Regions from separate parts of the Homo sapiens genome. Here all the other regions are linked to region 1. Evidence: fine-mapped expression QTL. A gene starts in region 1. Each other region holds a variant in brackets. All regions are shown on one strand. Distances are from middle to middle.

Evidence for each region. PIP is the estimated chance that this variant, and not a neighbour inherited with it, causes the effect.
Region 2: its variant is fine-mapped to the expression of ATP2C2 in prefrontal cortex (CommonMind, PIP 0.95).
Region 3: its variant is fine-mapped to the expression of ATP2C2 in lung (TOPMed, PIP above 0.99).
Region 4: its variant is fine-mapped to the expression of ATP2C2 in lung (TOPMed, PIP 0.96).
Region 5: its variant is fine-mapped to the expression of ATP2C2 in esophagus mucosa (GTEx, PIP 0.96).
Region 6: its variant is fine-mapped to the expression of ATP2C2 in cerebral cortex (GTEx, PIP above 0.99). The same link has a PIP of 0.9 or more in anterior cingulate cortex.

The regions. Positions count from the first base shown.
Region 1 is chr16:84,366,993-84,370,992 of GRCh38, reverse strand. It overlaps ATP2C2 (ATPase secretory pathway Ca2+ transporting 2), which reads right to left and starts at 2,455. Exons shown (of 27, transcript NM_014861.4): 1 at 2,279-2,455. The coding sequence starts at 2,377.
Region 2 is chr16:84,490,489-84,494,593 of GRCh38, reverse strand. The region is part of intron 3 of MEAK7 (MTOR associated protein MEAK7); the gene reads left to right. Among named protein-coding and RNA genes, the nearest start is that of MEAK7, 12 kb to the left of the region's middle. The variant G/A (reference allele first, on the strand shown) is at 1,805.
Region 3 is chr16:84,394,176-84,398,280 of GRCh38, reverse strand. The region is part of intron 1 of ATP2C2 (ATPase secretory pathway Ca2+ transporting 2); the gene reads right to left. Among named protein-coding and RNA genes, the nearest start is that of ATP2C2, 28 kb to the right of the region's middle. The variant T/A (reference allele first, on the strand shown) is at 2,027.
Region 4 is chr16:84,462,216-84,466,320 of GRCh38, reverse strand. ATP2C2 (ATPase secretory pathway Ca2+ transporting 2) reads right to left here. Exons shown (of 27, transcript NM_014861.4): 27 at 2,134-2,707. The coding sequence ends at 2,589. It overlaps ATP2C2-AS1 (ATP2C2 antisense RNA 1), which reads left to right. Exons shown (of 3, transcript NR_146503.1): 2 at 3,322-4,105. Among named protein-coding and RNA genes, the nearest start is that of ATP2C2-AS1, 3.1 kb to the left of the region's middle. The variant C/T (reference allele first, on the strand shown) is at 2,347.
Region 5 is chr16:84,339,260-84,343,364 of GRCh38, reverse strand. No RefSeq gene overlaps it. Among named protein-coding and RNA genes, the nearest start is that of ATP2C2, 27 kb to the left of the region's middle. The variant T/C (reference allele first, on the strand shown) is at 2,382.
Region 6 is chr16:84,401,958-84,406,062 of GRCh38, reverse strand. It overlaps ATP2C2 (ATPase secretory pathway Ca2+ transporting 2), which reads right to left. Exons shown (of 27, transcript NM_014861.4): 3 at 819-935. Among named protein-coding and RNA genes, the nearest start is that of ATP2C2, 35 kb to the right of the region's middle. The variant A/G (reference allele first, on the strand shown) is at 2,334.

The DNA of each region.
Region 1 (4,000 bases):
CTGGCTGTCAGGAAATGCTCACTGAGCAAACAAACGTGGCCCCACTAGGAGCCTCACATCCTCATTGATCACATGACGAGAGTAAAATTTACCTTGGAGGTAAGAGGCCCAAGAGAAGACACAGCAAGTTCTCAGTAACAATCACTATTAGAACTGGGGTAACTGGTCAAAGTGGCTGGGGGAGGGGAGGGCTTAGAGGCCTCCTACAGGCATCCTGGATGTGGCATGTAATTAGTGCTCATAAAAGACGGTTCTATTGAGGAGTGAAAATGGAACCCCTAAATAAACTAGTATGAAATAACGCAAAAAAAAAAAAAGACAATTCCAACTATTGTAGAAGTGATCACCTCAACACACATCGCCTCCTTTCCAAACCCTGGGAGAAAGGAGTTCCAACGAGAGGACATGAGTATGACAGCAAAGGAGGTGTTCAGGTCTGAGCCAACCTGGCAGGAAGTGAGTGCCTCGCCCAGCCACCCGGCCTCCCCACCTCCCTCCCTCCTCACACTTCCCATCGATCTTCATTGCCATTTCCTGGGTTTGCACATTTCCTGGGTTTGCACAAGGCTGCCTCTGGAGACAGCATGGCTTCTTTCTCAGCTGGCCTTTGGTGTCAGTGCTGGTATCACCCGCCTCCTGGCGCTGCACACTGCCCATCATCACGCACCCAGGGCCTCAGGATGCTGCTGAGAGCACCCCGGTCCACAGCCAGGTGGGAGAGCACACTGACAGACCGGCTGAACACCTGTCAGACCTCTGAGAACTCTCCTGCAAAGCTTTGGAGGGACGAGTCCACCTGGCACAGAGATCAAACTCTCCCAGCATCTCCCTTGAGGTTACATCATCCATGCACCTGCATTCCTGGACATCCTGTGAAACCTGATGGTAACCAACTACACACCAGGAGAGTTTGAAAAATACCTGGCCTGATGCAAGAATCAAAAGATGGAAAGGAAAAAACAGGAATGGCAACATAGGAAAGGCAACCTGTGATGGCAAATAAACTTCAAACTCCTTTAGCAGAATGTATCGCAGAAGCAGAGAAATGGATCACAGCCAATTAATTGAACTCTATATCCTATCAATATTAACATGCCACTTCAGAAAAATCGAGATTGCTCAAAAACTGCTAGTTACGTGGTCCTGTGGCCTACCACCCTAAGACCAGAATTCTTACATCAACAGGGATGTATAAAACACTATTTTTAAAAAAGCACAAAACACTATTTTTAAAAAAGCACGAATACTTAATCTCACAAACAAAATGTTTTGACCATTAGTATTCTTTGGGAGAAAAAAATAAAATTTTAAGTCAAATATTTTTTCAGCTAATTTCTTTTTTTAATTAAAAGGTAAGTTTACCTTTGAAGTTTCCTTTCACTGGTCAAAAGGCCATCGCCAAGTCATATTTCTAATTAGCAACCCAGGGGACTCGTTCAGAAATGTTACTTTTGAACGACTGCTTAAGCGTAAATGAAAAAAAAAAAAGTGCAACGACCCTCTGGCGTGCAGAGAAACGCTTCTGCAGAAATTCAGTGCCCCCCTGACCTTAAAGCATGCAACGAGTTCTGTTTGCGAAGCTAAAAAGAAGGGTGTTGGGTCACCCTCAAGCCTGGCTTCACCCCTGGCTTCCAAGAATCCAAGGAACAGGAGGGGCTTTATTTGACAGCTTTGCCACTTCGTTCCCTCATGAACCGCCCTGCCCTGGCACCCTGCTGCTTTATCCCAGAGGGTCCCTGAAGGTTGCAAAGCAGGCATACAGCTCTGAGTGACTTTCTAAAAGTACCTGACTGTAGGAAGTGAGGCTGGGAGGTCCCTCAGCTCCAACTTTGCTTTCTATTATTGCTACAACATTTCAGCAATCTTTTGTTTTTTGCATCCCTCTAATTTTATTTTCCAATTTAAGTTTTAAAAATCCATAAAGCAGCCCAAGTCTGGAGACCCAGGAATTTTAATTCTCTGGAGTCAGAGAAACCTAGGTTAAGTTCCCAGCCAGGTCACTTCCTAGCTCCGTGCCCCTTAGGGAATATACTTAACCACTCTCGGCCTCAGTTTCTCAACCACAAAATGGGTTCACGTGAGGGTTCCATGCTGAGCTCCCCGCGCCAGAGCGCAGATGAGAGCGCGGTTGCTGTGAGGACAGCTTCTTTCCAGAGCCAGGGGAGGAGGGCGAGTTCGCGGATCGCAGCGCGAACGCGGGGTCTCGGGCCGGGGACGGTTACGACGGAGGGGATGGGGGGTCGGGTCGCACGCCCGGCGCGGAGTCGCGGGGACTCACCAAGGCTTCCTCTTCGTCCTTCTCCAGCGCCTGGTACTGGCGGCCCCCGCCCGAGAAGCCGAGTTTCTTCAGGAACTCGGAGACGCGTCCCTCGACCATGGTGAGCGGGCGCAGGCGTTGCCTGCGTCCCTAGGTCCCCGGCGAGGCCCGGGATGGCTGCGCGCGCCCAAGCCTCCTGGGCCGGACCCGGTTACCAGGTAGCTGTCTACCTGCCCGCGGCAGGTGAGGCCCCGCCCCTGGGGCGGGGCTGCGCACAGGGAGGTGCCGGCTCACCCGGCCCCGCCCCGCGAGCTCGCCTGGGACCCCAGGGGCTCTGGGGACAGCGCCGGCTGGCCATGAAAGGCCCAGGGAGAGGCTGCGTCGCCTCAGGGCTTGGGCTGTTTCCCAAACTTACAGATCCTAAGAATCACCTGGAGTGGGGGAGGTGGAGGAGCAAATGCTGGTTTAAAATCCGGATTCCCAGACCCCTCCCTGCCCAGTCACGGTTTGGAGCCGCCGGGAGCTGGGTTTTTAACGAGCCCCAGGTGATCCTCTTGAGGAACCCAGGGTGGGCGGCTCTAAGGCGCCGGGAGCGAGGTGGCTGGAGCTCAGTCAGACTCACACCTGCGGCTGTGCACTCTGGACGGGTCACGTGGCCTTTCTGAGCCTCGGCAACCTAGCCTGTCATTGAGCGGGGAGCAGCAGAAGGCTAAGACCCCCACCTCCAGGGCCCTGGGAGTGAGTCCAGGAACAGGAGCGACTGAGAGCCCTGCTGCCTTTGGCGCCTGCATGGTCTCGGATGGTCAGGGCCCCTGTCCTCGTCTGCAGGATGAGCGCCGCTCTTGCTCGTCGTGGGACCTGAGCAGGTTTCTTATATTTTTAGCGCCTTGGTTTACTGCTCTGCAGAATGGCCACCACGATAGCGCCTCCTTCACAGTGACATGGAGAGGCCCCAGCGGACAGTGCTGTACAGGAAGGTCTCGAGCAGGGCTTGGAGTAGAGAATGTGCTGGTGTCCCCATGACACCATCCTCCTCCTCTTCATCATCAGAAGGTGCTGGGCTCAAATGGCTCCCAAAGTATGTGAGTCCATACGCAGTGTAGACAGTTGCCAGCAGCCAAGTGGGTGCTTTGAAGTTCCAGGGCTTTCTTTGGCTTCAGGTAGGACTAGATCCGTAACTAGACCCACCACTTAGCAGAGGGGGAGCTCTGGGGAAGTCCGTGCCACCCGCCTTTCCGCTGGCTTCCTCATCTCTACAGGGAAGTTACTCACGGGCTACAGGAGGTGCCCTCTGCATTTGTCCACGAAATTCAGCCACCCCTTTTGAGCAAATATTTGCCACCTACCTCAATTGCTCCCGAGGGTTGACTCCAGGCCACGAAAACCTGCAGGGCAGTTCCAGTGCCCCTTCTTGTATCTCCTGCATCTTCCTCTTTCAAGGAAACAAAGGCTACGGTATCAGCCTGGCCCCACTCCCCAGTTTCAACAAAGGTGCAGGAATAATGGTAACAGCAAACCTCTGATGTGAGTGAGTCCAGATTTGAATCCCAGGAATGTTCCTTTCCGACCTTGGGCAATTTTCTTCACCTCTCTCCACCTCAGTTTACTCATCCATAAAATGGGGATGTCACTACCTACCCGTAGGAGTCAGGGTCCCAGTAGGAAATAGTAATTTGAGGAGAGTTTGAGAAACAGACTTTTTACAAAGCTGTGGGGAAGACGTAGAGAAACCAGAAGTGCTTG
Region 2 (4,105 bases), 120 kb before region 1:
AGTCCATATATCAGCAGGCAGGTACGAAAATGGTTCTGTATATAAATAGGTCGCTGTTACTCCAGAGTTTAAGTTGTCTAGCTTTAGTTCTCAGAGCTTTAAGAAGAGCACAGCTTATTTTTTAATGATTTCAAATCAGAAAAATGGGGGGAAAAAAAGGAATAGAAGGAAGGAGAAAGATTGAAATGTTATTTTAAAGACTTGTAGCCAGGAAAAAATTCTAGGGTTCAGTCCAAATTGTAGAAAATAATAAAAATTGACACTGGTCAAAGCTAGAATCCAATAACCAGTGTACTATGGTTTATTTTGAAACATTTTTCTCTCTTCAGTTCCCCACTTTCATTAAAGACAAAATCATAGTAGGACCAACTTATTTGTAAAATAAGTTGTAGTCTAATTATACTTAGCTTGATTATTTTGCATAAAGTGCAGCAACAGTGATAATTTGCCATATAGACACTGACTCTCTTTGAATTATCTTTGCTAGAACTTTTCCTTAAGGAGTCTGAGATTAGACATTTTTATTTATTTTATTTTATTTTATTTCATTTTTTTAGATTAGACCTTTCTAAAAGCTCCAAGCCTAGCCAAGAATTTATCTGTGCCTGTAGATACCCATGTGACTTGGGTGAATTCCTCTCTCTTTGAGGTCCCAAGAAAACTTGGAGTATTTGGGCCTGTCAGAAAGTGACATCCTTTACTTACAGATCAGGACCCTGTAAAGGACAGTGTGAGGCCAGTTTGTCCAGTGGCTTTTATCAGCTCTACAGGTCAGCTTCATTTTCTCAAGGTAATCTGAAAATGCTGTTCCAGTCAAAGCCTTCATGAAATAACCAGTGTTTCCAATTATGTCCTGTTATAAAAGAAAACAGATTCTTATTGAATGTATGCAAATAATTATATTGCCATAAATTAAGAATACTCACAAATAGTTTCCAAATTTTAGAGAAATTAGGTAGACAGAAAGGGATTATGTTTTAAATTTTGCTCACTAGAGTATATTTTAATTGTTAAAAGCTGTAAATAGCTTAAAAGAGAAAGTTTTCTTGACTCTGGAAAAAAAACAGCTAATGTTGTAAACAAAATGTCATAAAAGATTATTTCGGTCATCTGTTAGTTCGGTCCACGCAATTAACTTCTTGCTTGCTTGATATTGGATCGGCAATCCTCATGAATACGTCAGCCCCCTATGAGTCCTAGAAGTTTTCCTTTCTATTCCAACAGCACAATCTCTGAAGTTATCGGAACCGATATTTAAGAGTACTCTTCAGAGTTCTATAGCTGACTATAAACTGCCCTATAAAAGGATCAAAGTAAAACAATTGTGGATGTCAAAAGTCTTAGAACAGCCATGGTTAAAGACACAATTGACAAGGAAATTTGGGTACTTCTCTGGCATACAACAACTTTACATAATAGTAATTACTACTGATAACATATACTAAGACACATCAGAATCACAGGAATCTCATAGAATTTTGGAACACATACTAATAACACACTTACATAAATGTGGTCCAAAGATGGTTAAACACCATTTCATATTTGACAGTGCTTCCTGTATGATTGTATTATACCAAGTAAGCCCAATATGTCTCCCTTGGAGCTCAAGGGACCTAATATCAAAACAATAATTGAGGTCAAAAGGACTGAATTTTGAATTTGATTCTGGAAAGTTTGTCAAATATCAGAAGTTTAAAACACTTGATATAGGCTGGGCGTAGTGGCTGACGCCTGTAATGCCAGCACTTTGGGAGGCCAAGGTGGGTGGATTATCTGAGGTCAAGAGTTCAAGACCAGCCTC[G/A]CTAACATGGTGAAACCCTGTCTCTACCAAAAATACAAAAATTGGCCAGGCGTGGTGGCACACACCTGTAGTCCCAGCTACTCGGGAGGCCAAGGCAGGAGAATCGCTTGAACTCGAGAGGTGGAGGTTGCAGTGAGCCAAGATTGTGCCACTGCACTCTAGCCTGGGTGACAGAGTCAGACTTCATCTCCAAAAATAAATAAATAAATAAATAAATAAAATAAAACACTTGATATCACAAAATAAGATCACAGGTCATTGTAAAATAAGTCATTTAGCCAAAGTGCTAACTCAAAGGTTTTGAAAAAAAGGGTAAAAACCTTTATTTTTTTGAGAGAGGAGACTTAATTTCCCAAACAATAAGCCCTAATAAAGACAGTATGAGGCCACTTAAATCTCTGTGAAGTCTTATAAACAAATCTATTAAATTTTAATCATCTTGACCATAAGATGTAATTTGTATAAACCTTTTTATAACCTTTTATAATTCTTTAAATGAAAAGGTGGGTTATGCTCCAAGAAAACCTTGTTAATCTGACACAAGGACCCAGATGCTGGTGTTGGATCAGTGTATGTTTGATATTAATATTTAATTTACAGAGAACCTCTGAACTAATTTTCTCTCTCAAAATCGGCCCTTACAATCTCATACATCCACCTCTTCCACAATAGTCCCTGGGCCTAGAGGGGTTAAATATTTTAAATTTCAGGCCCTGTGTCTCGTGAACACAGTTTGATTGCCATCTTTTCCTGGGTCTCAAAATGAGGCTTTAATTGTTTTCAGTGTTGAAGATTTAGCAGGATTCAAGTCTCTTTTAGCCCTAGGAATCACAGCCCTGTAACTTAACAGCAAAAGGACTTTAAAAACAATACAAAATGTTACATGGATATGATAACCTTAATTTAAAAAAATTTAAATCTGTTTTCTTTTTTCTTTTCTTTTTTTTTTTTTTGAGACGGAGTCTTGCGCCTTCACCGAGGCTGGAGTGCAGTGGCGCGATCTCAGTCACTGCAAGCTCCGCCTCCTGGGTTCACGTCATTCTCCTGCCTTAGCTTCCCAAGTGGCTGGGACTACAGGTGCACGCCACCACGCCCAGGTAATTTTTTGTACTTTTAGTAGAGATGGGGTTTCACCATGTTAGCCAGTATGGCCTTGATCTCCTGACCTCGTGATCCACCTGCCTCGGCCTCCCAAAGTGCTGGGATTATAGGCGTGAGTCACCGTGCCCAGACGTTTTTTTTTTTTTTTTTAAGACAGGGTCTCGCTCCGTTGCCCAGTCTGGAGTGCAGTGGCACAACCTCAGCTCACTACAACCTCTGCCTCCCAGGCTCAAGCGATTCTCCTGCCTCAGCATCCCAAGTAGGTAGGATTACAGGTGTGTGTCACCATACCTGGTTAATTTTTGTATTTTTAGTAGAGACGGGGGTCTCATCATGTTGGCCAGGCTGGTCGCGACCTCCTAACCTCAAATGATCTGCCCACCTTGGCCTCCCAAAGTTAATTTTTGTATTTTTAGAGATACAGTTTCACCACGTTGGCCAGACTGGTCTCGAACTCCTGACCTCAAGTAATCCACTCGCCTTGGCCTCCCAAAGTGGAGGGATTACAGGCGTGAGCCACCACGCCCAGCCCCCTACTTCTGTTTTTGATTTAAATAATTTGAATTGTCTCCCTTTTTTCTGTCAGTGTAGCTAAAGATTCTTCATATTTTTGTTGATCTTTTCAATGAACCAACTTTTGGTTTCATTAAAGAGTAGCTGTGTAGTAATAACTTTTTTAGACAAAAATCAGGTAACACAGTAGAAAAGCAGCTTAAGAGCTGAGAGGAACTGGTCTGTTTATAACTTTGGGGTTCTGTAAAGAAACAAATTTCTCTCAGAAACGAGTGTGGCACCTTCTCTGTTTTCTTTAAGGAATCCCAGACTCTTAGACATTATTTTAGGTCCTTCATACAGCGGAGGGTAGCAAGAGGAAGGAGAGACACGCAGAAGCAAATGGAGAAAAAAATTCAGTTGATTGAGAAGGAAATAAATCTTCTTTTTTCTAAAAACAAGACCCTAGGAGAGACAAAAAGGCATTATGTCCCTTTAAATACACACACACACACACACACACACACACACACACACACACATCTTGATTAGCTTTTAATTAAGCTGACTTTAACCATTGAGCTCTTTAAAAAAATCATTTTAAATCTTTTACTACCGTATTTTACCTGGGACAAAAATGACTGGTATTTCAAAAGTAACACAAATATCAAACCAGAAAGGATTTTGATGTAGGAACCAAACTCAGGC
Region 3 (4,105 bases), 27 kb before region 1:
GTACGCATCACCACACCCCACTAAATTTTTTTGGTATTTTTAGTAGAGACGAGGTTTCACCATGTTGGCCAGGTTGGTCTCAAACTCCTGACCTCAGGTGATCCGCTTGCCTCGGCCTCCCAAAGTGCTGGGATTAAAGGTGGAGCCACTGCGCCCGGCCACATGTGTTTTTTTTAAAGCATAAAACACACACACACAGTGTGCATATGTGTACAGCTCACAAACTAACCCTTATAACCAGCCCCCAAATTAAGAAACAGATATGACTGGTCCCCTGATGCTCCCTTGGCCAACCTACCTACCTGAGGGGTAACTGCTGTCATGGTTTCAATCCTCATAGATTAGGTTGGCCAGGGTTTGAACTTTATGGAAATGGTGCCATGCAGTATACACTCATACATGCTTTCTTGTCTGATTTCTTTCACTCAACATTGTTAGTGAGATTTATACAAGTGAGAATGCATGTAGCAACAGTACGCTAATTTTCACAGCAGCTTAGTATTCCACTGTATGAGTAGATCACATTGTATTTGTTCTCCTGTTGATGAATATCTGGGTTCCAGTTGTTAGTTGTTGGCTAATACTGATGCATCTATTTTTAAGCAAGTTTTTTTTTTTTTTTTTTGTCACCCAGGCTGGAGTGCAGTGGTGCAATCATAGCTCACTGCAGCCTCAACCTCCCAGGCTCAGGTGATCCTCCTGCTTCAGCCTCCTGAATAGCAGGACCACAGGTGCATGCTATTGTGCCTGGCTAATTTTTTAATATTTTGTAGGGACAGGGTCTCCCTATGTTGCCCAGGCTGAGCGAACTTATTTTACAGAATTGAAACTTGTAAGTGGACAGAGTAGGGCAACAATATACATATGTAGAATCCTGAACCTCGAACTTCCAGGATTCTCCATCAAGTATGCACCATATTGCAGAGAGTGCCTCCTACTGATGATAGGTGGTATCACAGCCTGGTTCTATGGGACATTTTAAATAACCAAAGAAAAGGGGAGGGGAAACACAACCAAGTTCTGGAAGTCCCAGCACTCTGTGTTGAGACCTGCGGGCCTGGAAAGAAGCCACGTGAAACACCTGGAGGCTTCGGGAGGCTTTGCTAATACAAAGGAGACCTCAGAAGCGGAAAAGTGTGAGGTATTTTTGCAAAACCATTCCTAGCATCCTGATACCCAGGATGTGATAATCATCTTTTCCTTTTCCACCAGGTTACTGGAAACTGGGAAAAAGGAAGCAGGAGAGGTATTGAGTAACTTCCTCCTTTAGCTGTAATAGAGATTGCAAATCCCACTCTTCCTTCTTGACAGCCGCCCTCCCCAACCCCAAACCATCTCCTCCCAAATGCCTATTTGCTTAGAAAAGCTGTGCTACCCACCTCGGTTTCATGCGGCTGCTTCTCACTCATGCCCAGTGCCCAGGAGCACAGCAGCGATTACGCAGATCTTTAAGCAGGCTTAGCCATCCATTGGGAGCCCTCCTTAAGTCAACATTGCATTCTTTGTAGAGTTACTTCAAAGAAAAATGTGGATTGCACAAGACTTTTCCCCCCATTCTCAAGATCTGCTCCCGTCGTACCAAATAAAGTGCTTGATTCTTGCGCACACCACAGGTGGAGGCAGGCTGGGCACTCCCCCCATCCCCCACACTCACTCAGCTGCCCTCAGCCTTGCCATTTGTGACTCACTACACCGAATTCACTTTTCCTTTTTTTTTTTTTTTTTTTTTTTGAGATAGAGCCTCACTCTGTCACCCAGGCTGGAGTGCAGTGGTGCGACCTCGGCTCACTACAACCTCCTCCTCCCGGGTTCAAGCGAGTCTCCTGCCTCACCCTCCCCAGTAGCTGGGACTACAGGCACGCACCGCCACGCCTCACTAATTTGTTTTTGTATTTTTAGTAGAGACGGGTTTTCACCAGGTTGGCCAGGCTGGTCTCAAATTTCTGACCTCAGGTGATCTGCCTGCCTCAGCCTCCAAAAGTGCTGAGATTACAGGCGTGAGCCACTGCACCTGGCTCGAAACACA[T/A]AAATCCCATCTCACACACACACACACACACGCCCGATGCTTGAAAACACTTGCAGAGATTCCAGTGCTCTCAGGATAAGAGCCCAATTACCTTCAATGTGACTGCCCAAAACCCACACATGCTACAACATGGATGAACCTTGAAGATGTTATGCCTGGTGAAATAAGCCAGACCCGAAAGGACAAATCCTATAGGACTCCAGTTACAGGAGGTCCCTAAAATAGTCAAACTCACAGAGACAGAAAGGAGAGCAGAGGTAACCGGGCTGGGGAGTTAGTGTTTAATGACTACAGAGTCTCTTTGGGAAAGATGAGAGTTTTGGAGGCAAATATTGGTGATGGTTGCATAACAATGGGAATATACTTAATGCCAGAGAGCCATACCCTTAAAAATGGTTAAAATGGTGAATTTTATGTTATGTATATTTTACCACAATAAAAATCCAGAAGAAAAGGGCCAGACACAGTGGCTCATACCTATAATCCCAGCACTTTGGGAAGCTGAGGCAGGCAGATCATCTAAAGTCAGGAGTTCGAGACCAGCCTGGCCAACATGGTATTTTGTAAAAATACAAAAATTAGCCAGGCATGGTGGCAGGCATCTGTAATCTCAGCGACTCTGGAGGCTGAGTCAGGGAGAATTGCTTGAACCTGGAAGGCGGAGGTTGCAATGAGCCAGAGTCAGGGAGAATTGCTTGAACCTGGAAGGCGGAGGTTGCAATGAGCCAAGATCATGCCACTGCACTCCAGCCTGGGCAACAGAGTGAGACTCTGTCTCAAAAAAAAAAAAAAGATCAAAGGCACCAATTCCCCTGCCTTTGAGGGCAGGACTAGCATGTGCCCCCAACCTTTGTCACGTGCTCTGGACATCTGAAGGCCCAGGGCTGTCCACCCACATGTCCCTGGGGAATGAGCTAGGTGGATTGAGGAAGTCATGGGGTGACAGGGTGCCATGCTGCAGTGACACTGGAGGGGAGAGGGGGTTGGATGCAGAGACCTCCCTCACTCCCCTGTGTTTTGTGACTGCAGGGGCAGAGTCCAGAGCCCAAAGGAGAGAGGACCCAGCCTCCGACTTCCCTCTGTGAGTAAAAGCCACCTACACACTCCCAGCTCTGTAACCAAGGGTACTGGAAACAGGGACTCTGCTCACAGCAGCACAGTTCACGAGACCCAAAAGTCAGACACTGCCCGATGCCCATCCACGGATTATGGAGAAGCAAAATGTGGTCCATCCAGACAGTGGAGCATCAACTCAGCCTCAAACAGGAATGCAATACTGACGCACGTGAATGTTGTTAAACTGTGGCCTCTGCAAAACCATTCTTTGAAAGCCTAACACCTGGTACACCAGAATGTGACTTTATCTGGAGGGCATCTTTACAGAAATGATCAAGGTCAGATGAGGTCAAATATGAGCGATGTTCTTGCAAAAAGGAGAATTTTGCAGAGATAAACATGCACACAGGGAAGTCCATGTGGAGACACAGGAGAAAACCCTGTGATGATGGAGGCAGAGGCTGGAGTGACGTGTCCATCGGTCAATGAATGCTGGGGATTGCTGGCCATGATGGAAGCTTGAAGAGAAGCGTGGAACAGATCCTCCCCTGGAGCCTCCAGAGAGAGCACAGCCCTCCTGACTCCTTGAGTTTTGACTTCTGGCTTCTAGAACTGTGAGACAATACATTTAAATTTAAGCCACCACATTTTTGGTACTCGGTGACCATAGCCCTGGGAAACACACTTGCTACAACACAGATGAACCTGGAAGACATCACACTAAGCGGAAGAAGCCAGACACAAAAGGCCACACGGTATGTGAGTCCACTCATAGGAAAGGCCCGGGACAGGCAAATTCGTAGGAGCAGAAAGCAGACTGGGACTGGGGAAGGGGGAATGGGGAGAAACTGCTAATGGGTACAGGGTTTCTTTCAAATGTTTCAGAACTGAATAGAAGTGGTGGTCACACGACATTGTGAGTGTACTAGATCCCATTACAATGTTTACTGTGAGATGGTTGATTTTGTTATGTGAATTTCACCTCAATAAAATAAGAATTTTGTTTTTCGTTTTTGAGGCAGA
Region 4 (4,105 bases), 95 kb before region 1:
TTTATTTTTGGAATTCAGTGTATCGAATTGCCATTTCTTTACAAGTTTAGTAAAATTCACCAGTGAAATCATCTGGCTTCAGAAACTGCCTTTTTTGGAAGGGTTTCAACTTCAGCTTATCTATTTAATCTTCAGTGAGTTTTGGTAGTTTTTGGTTTTCAAGCAATTGGTTTATTTCATCCAATTGATTGAATTTAGGTACATAAAGATGTACATAGTATTATTTATTATTATTGTTGGAATATCTTGAAGGGTTTGTGGTGATATACTTTTTCATTCCTGACATTGGTCATTTCTCTTCCCTTTTTTCTTTGATAAGCTTATTGCAAGACTGATAGTTTTATTGATCTCTTCGAAAAACTAGGTTTTGATTGATTTTCCTCTATTTTTGCTTTTTCGTTTGATTTCTGCTCTTTATTTTGGTGACTGTTTCTATGCTACTCGTGAATGGGGTGTTCTACAAGTGTAAATCAAGCTAAGTTGCTTAATGGTGGTGTTCAAGTCTACTGTGTCCTTAATGAAAAGAAGGTCTTAGTTTTAATGTAGTCTAATTTATATTTTATTGTTAGCATTTTGTGTCTTACTACAGTTTTATCCCTAAAGTTTACATAAGCAAGAGTTCAGAGTAATCGACCCTGGTATTTTGATTACTTAATTTTAAATGGGAAGTAAATGTCTCGGGCCAGCAGTGTGCCCAAGGATCCTGAAAAGTAGAGCAAGAATTGTCCCTGACTCAGGGGGAGGCACTCCTTAGCAGACTGTGGAAGTGGCACACTTCAGCCTTGACCTCTTAGTGGTTCCAGGGGTTGGCAGCTTCTAGGAAGACAGCCCCACAGCTCAAAAGGTTTCTTCTCCAGCCAGCCCTGTGTCTGTGTCTCACTAGGAATGGCCCATCGCTGCATCTCCTCCTGTGGCCCTGGTGTCACAGGTTGTAGCCAGAGAGGGGCTTCTTCCCAGGCTGTGAATCCTACTATGGAGGACTTTGGACTCTGCCTGGAACCCTGGCAGGGGTCCACTCTGACCTTCCTTATCTTCGTCTGACCCAGCTGTTACCACCCCTGGTAGCCCTTTTCATAGCTACCGTGGCTGGGTGCAACGGGTACTTTTATCTGACAACTTGGCCAGGCCAAGTTGATTTTCGTCAAACAAACACTGGTCTAGATGGCGCTGTGTAACTAACATGTAAGCCCGTAGACTTGAAGTAAAACAAACAGTTTATCCTTCATAACGTGAGTGGGCCTCATCCGATCAGTTGAGGACTATAAGAGGAAAAGGCTGAACTCCCTTGAGGAGGAGGAAATTCTGCCTCCAGCCTGCATCCCCAGCTCTTCCCTGGGTCTCCAGGATGCTGGCCTGCCCTCAAGATGTTAGACTTGCCAGCCCCCAACATCCTATGAGCCAGTTCCTTAAAACAAATCTCTGCATCTCCCTCCATCCTGTTGGTTCTGTTTCTCTAGTGAGGCCTGACTAGTAAATGGGGGGTTCTAGCTCTGGCCTTATTTCCTGAGAGATGGGGACGGAGTTCCCCTTCTGGTTCCCTTTGGTGGTTCTGGCGTGGCTTCAGGCAGAAGAACAGCATGGAGACCTCTCTCCTCTGCCATCTGTCACGTGGAAGAGCAGATCGGTTTTTGGAAGTCTTTGGGGCAGTGGGAAATCAAGCTTGTCTGCAGGCAGCAGGAGATACTACAGTTCCTGGTTCCGGAGAGAAGGGCCACTTTCTGAGAGAGACTCTTGCTTTGTTGCCCATGCTGCAGTGCAGTGGTACAATCTCCACCTCCTGGACTCAAGCCATTCTCCTGCCTCAGCCTCCCGAGTAGCTGGGATTAACAGGTGTGCATCATCACGCCTGGCAACTGTTTTTTTTTTTTTTTTTAAACTTTTAGTAGAGACAGACAGGGTTTTGCTGTGTTGGCCAGGCTGGCCTCAAGTGATCTGCCTGCCTTGGCCTTGCAAAGTGCTGGGATTACAGGCGTGAGCCACCATGCCCAGCCCTACTCTTTATGTCCAAAAGCCGAGGCCTTCCTGTAGGCCATTCATGATGGATTGCTGCTCACCCCACGTGGCCATTAACACATGGCTGTGGGTTTCCAACCTGGCCCCTTGTATGAAAAACCCTAGGTAAACACATCAAAATAATTATCCCCCGGCATAGCACTTTATTTAAAAGTCCCTCATTTTATGATGAGGAAATGGGGCCTCCAGGAGGGCAATGGGCAGAGTGTGACCATCCTACCCACTGCCTCTCAGGAGCCCCTTGTATCTGCCACGAGTGGCCTGCCTCACTGCAAGCTGTGGCACAGATACGTAGTTAGACATGGTTAATAAAAATCATTGTGATTTAATAAA[C/T]AGTGTGGTGTTTCTGTACAGGCCCCTCCCTGTCTGTCCCACAGCCAGCGGGAACGCTGGATGGATGTGGGCCTGGGTCCCTGGAGCCCACGAGGTTCCTGCAGCTTTCCTAAGAGGAAAAACTGATCCGGTGATGGAAGGCTGCGGCCTCCTAAAAGTCTCCCCTGACGAGGAGACACGGCAGGGGCCACAGTCACAACCAGATCGAGATGATTAGGGAAGGTGCCGCGGAGTGCGGTCCACTACACATCTTCAGGGTGCATCTGGACTCTCTTGGGGCTGCAACAGTATTTTTCACATAGTTTGAGGAGCTCTGACAAAATGAAGACGGATGAGGCCAATCCAGTTAAAAACAGCAAATCTGCCAAGGGAGAAAACAGAAAAGATTCAGGACGGGCTGCAGCTCTGTTGCGCCGGCAGGAAGCGCCTTCCCTGCCAGTCCTCCTGATAAAGTGAGAGGTGCGGAGGACCAGCCCTTTTCATTCCCCTGAAGGCAGGGAGATCTTCCTAACCCAGAATCCAAAATGCTGCAGTTCCAGAAGGGCCTGCCTGTGGTTCCAGGCAAACACCAGGCAGCTCCAGAGCACAGGGTGGGTCTGGCAGGCAGCTGGGAGCATGTTATGGACTCGGGCTGGAAGGGGAATGAGTTTCCTTTCCCTACAGCAGCTGTCCCAGTGCCCTGCTGCTTGCAAATGTCCTGAGTGACCAGTCTGGGCTCCCTGTCCAGTGCACCCCGACATGTTCCCTGGGATGAATTCCCAGCGACATGTTCCCTGGGATGAATTCCCAGCGTCTCCCTCTGCTCCTGTCACATGCTGTTTTGAGGAACCATCCCTGGCTCCCTGTTGATGATTCCTGATGTACGGGCTGCCCAAGCACAACCCCTTCAGGCGTGGGAAGCCGACTTCCTTCCCGGCGGGTGGAAACAGCCAGTGAGCAGAGTGTTTTGGGGGGTCCTCTTGTCTGTTCCTACAGGGCATTCACTGGTGACCCACACTGACACTGCTTTTTGGAGGACAAGGCAGAGTTGACCATCCCAGTCTTGCCTGGAGGTCATAGGACCGTTGTCACTGCAGCCTCAGGTCTGATGCATAATCCCATGACCCTCCAGATCTGAGCCATGACCCACTCTGGGCCCTGCCGGCGGGGAGGCGGTGGGCCCATGGGGGCTGCCTCACTGGCCTCCCTCGTCCTCTATTCCGGGTTGGGGTTGGCTCTCAGCACACTGGGGAAAAGGGTGGGGTCGATGACTTGTCCCTGGCTCCCTCCCCTTGCCCCATGCCTGCCATAACCGCAGCTTCAGAGAAAGGTGCCACACTCGCTTGGCTGACAATGTCGGGGAGTCCCCTGGGCTCCACACCAGGGCGTGTGCCCTTGGAAAACCACGGTGACTGAATCATGTCCCTTTCAGCCAAAACTGGAAGACAGCCCAGCTCCCTGCCTTCAGGTGACCAGATCTCTAAGTCACATTACTGGCCCCAGGGTCAAGTCCAGGCTCCCCAGCTGGGGTACCTCCCAGGCTGAGTACAGGCCTTGCTCCCTCCTTCCTCCCTGCACGTGCTCTGAGCCTCCAGCCCGACGCCTGGGATGCCGGTGCCCCTTGGGCCCCAGACCCTACTACTCTTGAGTGACAGGCCTCTTCCTAGGGGTTTCTGTGCATCCGTCACATCACCCACGTTAGAGTCCCTTCCTGTGAGGACAGAAGGGCCCTGAAGACAGAGCCGGCCCCTGGTGAGCTCTGCTTTCCCGCACTGACCCC
Region 5 (4,105 bases), 28 kb after region 1:
GCCCAGCGTGATGGGACGGTGGGCCTGGCACCCAGTCCCAAAAGCCTTGCTTCCTTCCTTTCTCCTGGATAACCCACCTCTGCCTGCCACAGACACCCAGAACCCTGCTGCCTCCATCTTCCCACTCATGCAGTTAGATGAGGCCTGAGCTCCAATCCCACCCCTGCCATTTCTCCAAGGATCCGCTCTTGGGCAAGTGACTTCACCTCCCTGGGCCTCAGTCTCCATTTGTGAATGGGGCCATAATTCCCACCTCTCAGGGGTGTGGGGAGAGTCGGTGACATAATGACCCAGGTAAAACTTTCAGCATCTCCACATTATTTTCAGGGGTGAGAAAAAAGAAATGGCTTGGAGTCTGAGCTTCCTGGGATGTGCAGAATTCATCAGGCTCGGAAAGACGAGAGTGTGGGACCTCAGTCATGCCGTCACCCCCAGGCCTAGGGGTAGTTAAAGGCATTTTGTTCCTGACTTGCTGCCTCACCCGCTATCTTCATGTTCTGGGAATTTGTGACACAAAGAACAATGCCTAGCCAAGCAATAGTTTCTATTATTTTCATATAAATTCTTGGTAAACAGCTTGGGAACTGCCTTTCCTTTTTTCCTTTAAAAACCTACTTGTAACTGCTGCTGAGTGGACTTTATATTCAGAGCAGCTTGAGTCCATACTCTCAGGTTGAAATCCTCAAGCTTGGCCCAAATAAACTCTCTACTTAATTTAACTAAGTAATTAAGTCATTTTTTCCTCCGTTGTTTTTTTTTTTTCCTTTAGGTCAACAGGGTCAAGTTCAAACTCAGCGTGTGAACCGGCTGGCACCTGCTTAGCTTTCTAGCCCCACATCCTCTCACTCTTGGGTGCCCCCTTTCCCTGGCCATGCCCACCTGCTTGGAGGTCCTTGAACTTCTCTTCTCCATGCCTTTTTCAATGTTCTTCCCTCTGCCTGGAATGCCTTTACCCCTCTTCCCTCTCCTGACCTAGCCGCTTGCTCCCTGCTGGGGGTTCAATGACGTCTCCCCAGAATGCCCATGTCCTAACCCCCAGAACCTGCGGATGTGACCTCATTTGGAAATAGGGACTTTGCAGATGGGATGAAGTTAAAGGTCTCAAGAGGAGATTATCCTGGACTTAAGAGGGCCCTAAATCCAATGACAGGTGTCCTTCAAAGAGAAATCAGAGGGAAATCTGGGACACGGAGACAGAGGCAAAGGCCACGGGAAGACGCTGCAGAGATGGGAGAGGCACATCCTCAAGGCCGGGAGTACTGAAGTGGCCGGCTGCCATCGGAAGCCGGGAGAGAGGCGCCGGGCAGATTCTCCCTCGAAGCCCGGAGAGAGGCACGGGTTGGATTCTCCCTTAGAGCCTCCGGAATGACCCAGCCGTGTCAACACCTTGGTTTTGGCTTTCTGGCCTCCAGAACAGTGTGAATGCATGACTGTTGTTTCAAACCACTTGGTGTGTGGGCATTTGTTAACAGCAGCCACAGAAACTCATACTCAGAAACTTTGCTCAAACGTTGCCTCCTCTGGGAAGGCCGCCCTGACTCCTCATCTCGACTGGAGGCCCAGATCCCAGTATGACCCTCTCCTACCTCTTACCTCGGTGGCCATGATCAGCGACGCACCTGTGTGGCTTCACTCCAGAACGTAAACTGAAGGGCGGGATTCCCTAACGGCTTAGATTACAGCAGCCTCTCCCAGAGAAGTCCACAGTCTAACAGGCCTCGCAGCTGTCAACAAAAGATGGTTCTGTAATGGTGGAACTTCAGGCAGCTCACAGGGGCCTGCAGGAAGGATGTTTTGGGGGCTGGGCTCCTTTTCACTCAGGCTCCTACTCCAGGTGTCTGCACGGGAAGAACCTCTGTGGGGGCTGTAAGATCAGGTTTGTCCTGAAAGACAGTCACCTGAAATGAACCCACCTGCCTTCTCTTTGGACCAACTTACTGATATCTGTGAGAATGTTCTAGAAAAAAGGCTCAGGGTGCGAGCTTATACTGGCAACTCAGATGGAAAGCAACCTGGGAGGGAATGTGGCCACATCCGAATAACCAAAGTCCAAAGGGATTATTATTATTATTATTATTATTATTTTTCTGAGACAGGGTCTTGCTTTGGCATCCAGGCTGGAGTGCAGTGGCACAATCATGGCTCACTGCAGCCTCGACCTCCTGGGCTCAAGCGATCCTCTCACCTCAGCCTCCTGTGCTGGGACCTGAAGTTGTGCACCACCATGCCTGATTTTTTTTTCTTTTTTTTAAGAGACAGAGTCTCACTTTGTTGCCCAGGCTGGCCTTGAACTCCTGGGCTCAAGCAATCCTCCCACCTCATTCTCCCAAAGTGCTGGGATTATAGGCATGAGCCATCATGCCCGGCCCAAAGGGATGATT[T/C]AGTTAAGTTTGCCCTTACGGAAAAAGCTGCTTTCAGGGTCCTTGGATGGCGGGAGGTGCTTTGTCTCCAGCAGGCCTGGAGGGGCCCACAGGCTTGCCCACTAGTTTCCAGCGTCCCGGTGCCCCGTCTTGCAGTGGGGACCCAAAGCACCCAGGGGCCCATCCCGCAGCCATGCTTTGAGACCCTGTTTGCTGTCAGGAGGGACAGAGTCCTCTCAGCCTCTGGCCACCCCTGCTCCCTGTGGCTGTGGAACCGTCCCCAGGTGGTTAGAGAGGTGGCCGCAACTGAGAAATTGCTTCCTCAATACAGGAGAACTTGTGCTGCAAGAGAGAAAACTCCAGACAGGGGTTCAGAGAAGTGGGGCTGGCCTCCTTCTGTTCCTGGAAGAGTGGGAGAACGGGAGGTGGGGCTCTGATGTCCCAACAACCTGCCCCGCCAGTTTCCAGCTGTGAGGCCGTGGGGAGATTGCCACATACTCCCGTCTTCCTCATATTCCATCCACACGTGGGTAATAAAACCACCTAGTGAGGAGGAGGTGACAGTGCAGTCAGGATCTTTTGATGGTGATGGTTGCTCATGCAGCAAGATCACAGAGCTACACACACGTGCAAAGACACACACACACGCACGCACACACACACCCGTGCAGAGTGGGACACAGATGAGTATGCTCCATGGAGATTGCCAGCGTCACCTTCCCGGTTTTGATGTCATGTCGTAACCGTGTGAGATGTTACCATGGGGGAGGAGGGGTGGAGGGACCAGGACCTCCCTGTATATTTCTTTGCATGTCTTGTAAATTTATCAGAATTTCAAAGCAAGAAGTTTTTTTAAAAAAATTCTTTAAAGAAAAAAATCCAGCCAAATGACCTTAGTATAAAATACAATTTGACTTTGACAATTAATGGCAATAAAAGGGAACAAATTTGTTCTTCTTTCAGAGCCAAGTCTTGAACCCCATCAGCCCAGGGCCACAGCCCCTCGCCACTCCTTCACACGGCTCATCACGTGGCCCCATCTGCCCCGACTGGTTCCCGCTGGGTTTCTGTCATCGTCACCAAAGTGCAGTGGTCATCCAGCCTCTCAGCGCCTTTGAGTCCCTGGCTGGGGTCTTCAGTGACCCTTCTGTGTTTCTTTGCCTCCCAGCCTTGTAAGTTTCCTGACCGTTTTCACACCCTCATCTCATCTGGTCCTATGGAAGGCACGGCAGATGTTACCCCCCGTTTCAAAGCAGTGGAAACTGAGGATCAGGGTGGCTAAGCTCTTTGTCCAGGGATACGCAGCTAAGGACCAGTAGGGCCACCATGGAACTCAGCTCCAGTCCAGAGCACTCCAACAACCTGAGGCAGCCGGGTGTCTGCTCAGATTTCAGCTCAGGAGAGAGACACTGTCATCTGTCTCCAAAACAGTCAGGTCCAAGGGAGGATCTCAAGGGGAAACTGTACTAGGTTCAAAGCCAAAAACATACAGCTGCTTCCCAGACCAGACGGGCCAGGCACACACCATCTGCCTGCGATCACTGATCCATCTGTGTCTCTCCTCCCGTGCAGGGAGGAAGCAGGAAAGGCCAGGGAGGAGGGAAGGGAGGCTCTTTAGCCATCCCAGGGGCAGCATGATGAAGGGGAGAGCCCCTGGGAATCAGCAGGCCATGGTTCAAATCCCTGCTTCTCCATGTACTGTGTCCCACTAGACTATAGGCAGCAGGGGCGGTTTCTAGGCTGTT
Region 6 (4,105 bases), 35 kb before region 1:
CACCCAGTAAAATCTAAATTTCAGAAAAACAAGGAACTTTTTGTTTTTAGTATAAGCACGTCCACTGTATTGGGACACACTTATACTAGAAATTGCTTCTTGTTTATCTATCTGAAATTCACTTTGGTTTTGTTGTTGTTGTGGAGACAAGGTCTCACTCTGTTGTCCAGGCTGGAGCACAGTGGCACAATCTCAGTTCACTGCAGCCTCCACCTCCTGGGTTCCAACAATCCTCCCACCTCAGCCTCCTCAGTAGCTGGGATTACAGGCATCCACTACCACATCCGGCTAATTTTTATATTTTTAGAAGAGACGGGGTTTCGCCATGTTGGCCGGGCTGGTCTTGAACTCCTGGGCTCAAGTGATCCACCCGCTTCAGCCGCCCAAAGTGCTTGGATTACAGGCACGAGCCACCACGCCCAGCCTGAAATTGAAATTTAACAGGGCATCCTATATTGTTATTTGCTAAACCTGGCAACTCTGGGGAAATCTTTCAACCTCTGCACTTCTCCTTCCTCATGTGCAAAGGCGGGATTAGGAGGAGGATTAGTAAGCGCATGCTTACTTATTCACTTACTCATATAGCGTGGGGCCCGGGGCCTGCTCAACTGTCTACGAAAGTGATCACTGTTTTTCCTGATCGCGGTTGCCTGGGAGTTGGTGATTTGCTCATGACTGATGCTCAGGCTGGCTGGGGCAGCGTGAAAGGGGCGGGAGCTGTCCAAGGATGCCTTCCATCAACATTGAAAGATGGAATGGCTGCCCCACCCTCGCTGGCTTATGCATGTTAATGCAAAGAATGACACCTCTGGTCCTACCTGATCCAGGTATTTCTTCCACACAGGTTCGCTGTTGTCAGCAACAAACTCATTCCAGCCATGGGCCAGCCGGCGCTGCGTCACCGAGAACTCCGACAGCCCAGTGTGTAAGTCCACCTGGAAGGAGAGGTCAGGCACAAGCTCACTCATGGGCGCAGCAAGGAATGAGGCAACAGGGTACAGACTCCCACTCTGAAAGGCAGCGGCTTCCATGATGGGCCAGGGACACAGGCTTGTCCACCAAGGTGCTGGGACTTGTTCAAAGACCCCGTGCAGATGGGGCAGAGAGAGGAGGAAAAGGCACAAGCCAGTGACCATTATAATTACAGCAGAAAAGACGACTCTGGTCTTAAATTTCAACAAATGGAAATGCAGCATAGACTTCCAGAAATGCAGAAACACATCTTTTCTTCTTAAAAAAAAAAAAAAAAAAAAGGTCTTGGGAATGTAAAATGGTGCAGCTGTTATGGAAACTGTGTGGCGATTCCTCAAAAAATTAAAAAGGGAGCTACCAGATCCAGCAATTCCACTTTGGGGTATATACCCAAAGGAACTGCTAGTGGGGCTCCAAGAGATGTTTGTACAACCATGTTCGTAGCACTGTTCACAAAAGCAAAAAGGAGGAAACAACCCACCAATCTTTCAAGGGATGAATGAATGCATGAAACATGGTGTACACACACAATGAAATACTATTTAGCCTGAGAACGAAAGAAAATGCTGACACGTGCTACAACATGGATACACCTTTAAGTTGAACCTTGAGGATGAAGTTAAGTGAAATAAACCAGTCACAAAAAGACAAATTCTGTTGATTCCACATATGAATTACATAGACTAGTCAAATTCATAGAGACAGAAAGTAGAATGGTGGGTGTCAGAGGCTGGAGGGAGAGGGAATGGGGAGTGAGTGTTTAATGGAGACAGATTCAGTTTTACAAGATGAAAAGAATACTGGAGATGCTAATGTAACCCGCTTTGCTGACTGTGGGTCTTAAGACCCTCCCATGAGAGGGTCCCACCCTATAATCTGGGGGAAGGAATGATGTCATGAAGCTTCCCTAAAAACCCAAAGATAGGATTCAGTGAGTTTTCACGTACCTGAACGTGGGGATATTCCTGGAGAGTGGCATCCAGGGAGATGTTTGAACAACCATGTTCATAGCAGCATTGGGCATGGAAGCCCTGCGCCCCTTCCCCCATTACCTGCCCTATGCGTCTCTTCATCGGTATCCTTTGCCTTTATAATAAACTGGTAGGGCTTGGTGGCTCAGGCTTGTAATCCCAGCGCTTTGGGAGGCCAAGGCAGGCAGATCACCTGAGGTCGGGAGTTCGAGAGCAGCCTTGTCAACATGGCAAAAGCCCGTCTCTACTAAAAATACAAGAATTAGCCGGGCGTGGTGGCATGTGCCTGTAATCCCAGCCACTCAGGAGGCTGAGGCAGGAGAATCGCTTGAAGCTGGGAGGCGGAGGTTGCAGTGAGCTGAGATCGCGCCATTGCACTCCAGCCTGGGC[A/G]ACAAGAAGGAAACTCCATCTCAAGAAAAAAAAAAAGAATTCTGGAGATAGAGAATGGCGATGGTTGTGCAACAGTGTGACTATACTTAATGCAACTACAATGTACACTTCAAAATGGTTAAGGCCAGGCACAGTGACTCATACCTGTAATCCCAAAACTTCAGGAGGTTGAGGTGGGGAGATTGCTTGAACCCAGGAGTTCAAGGCTAGTCTGGGCAATATAGCATGATCTTGGCTCTACAAAAAAATTTTAAAAATTAGCCCATTGTGGTGGCAGACTCCTGTAGTCTCAGCTACTCAGGAGGCTGAGGCAGGACGATTGCTTAAGCCCAGGAGGTGGAGGCTGCACTGGCCCTTGATTGCAGCACTGGACTCGAGCCTGGGCAACAGAATGAGACCATGTCTTGGAAAAAATAACAAGGTTAAGATGGTAAATTTTATGTTGTGTATTTACCACATATCAGACATTTTTTTAAATAGGCCTGTCTTAAGAAACAAGAGTATTTTTTTTTAAAGGTAAACAAAACTGACAAACCTTTAGCCAGGCTAAGAAAAAAAGAGAGAAGAACCAAATAAATACAAACAGAAATGAAAAAGGAAACTTCACAAATTATATCACAGAAAGTCAAAGGGCCATTAGTGGCTACCAGGAGCAACTATATGCCAATAAATTGGAAAATATAGAAGAAATGGATAAATTCCTAGACACACAGAACCTACCAAGATGGAACCATGAAGAAATCCAAAAGCTGAATAGACCAATAACAAGTAATAAGATCAAAGCCATAATAAAAAGTCTTCCGGTTAGGAAAAGCCCAGGACCCAGTGGCTTCACTGCTGAATTCTACCAAACACTCGAAGAAGCGATACCAATCCTACTAAATAATTCCAAAAAACAGATGAGTAGGGAATACTTTCATTCTACGAGGCCAGTATTACCCTGATACCAAAACCAGACAAAGACACATTTAAAAAAGAAAACTACTGGCCAATATCACTGATGACTATTGATGCAAAAATCCTCAGCAAAATACAAGCAAATTGAATGCAATAACACATTAAAATGAAAATTCATCATGACCAAAAGGAATTTATCCCAAGGGTGCAAGGATGGTTCACCATACACAAATTAATGTGACACATCAACAGAATGAAAGACAAAAACCATATGATCATTTCAATTAATGCTGAAAAAACGTGACAGAATTCAACATCTCTTCATAATAAAAACCCTAAAAAAACTAGGTATAGAAGGAACATGTCTCAATGTAATAAAAGCCATATATGACAGACCCAGGGCTAGTGTCATATTGAATGATGAAAAACTGAAAGCTTTTCCCGTAGGATACCCACTTTTACCACTACTATTCAACAGAATACTGTAAGTTCTAGCTAGAGCAATCAGACAAGAGTAAAAAATAAAGGGCATCCAAATTGGAAAGGAAGAAGTCAAATTATTCTTGTTTGCAGATGATATGATCTTATATCTGAAAAAACCTAAAGACTCCACCTAAAGCTATTAGAACTCATAAACAAAATCAGTAAAGTTAGAGGATACAAACTCAAATGATAAAGATCAGTAGCATTGCTATATGCTAAGAGAAAGCAATCTGCAAAAGAAATCAATTAAGTAATCCCATTTACCACAGCTGCAAATTAAATATCTAGGAATTAACTTAAAGAAGTAAAAGATCTCTACAATGAAAACTATAAAACATTGATGCAAGAAACTGAAGAAGACACAGAAAAATGGAAAGATATTCCATGTTCAT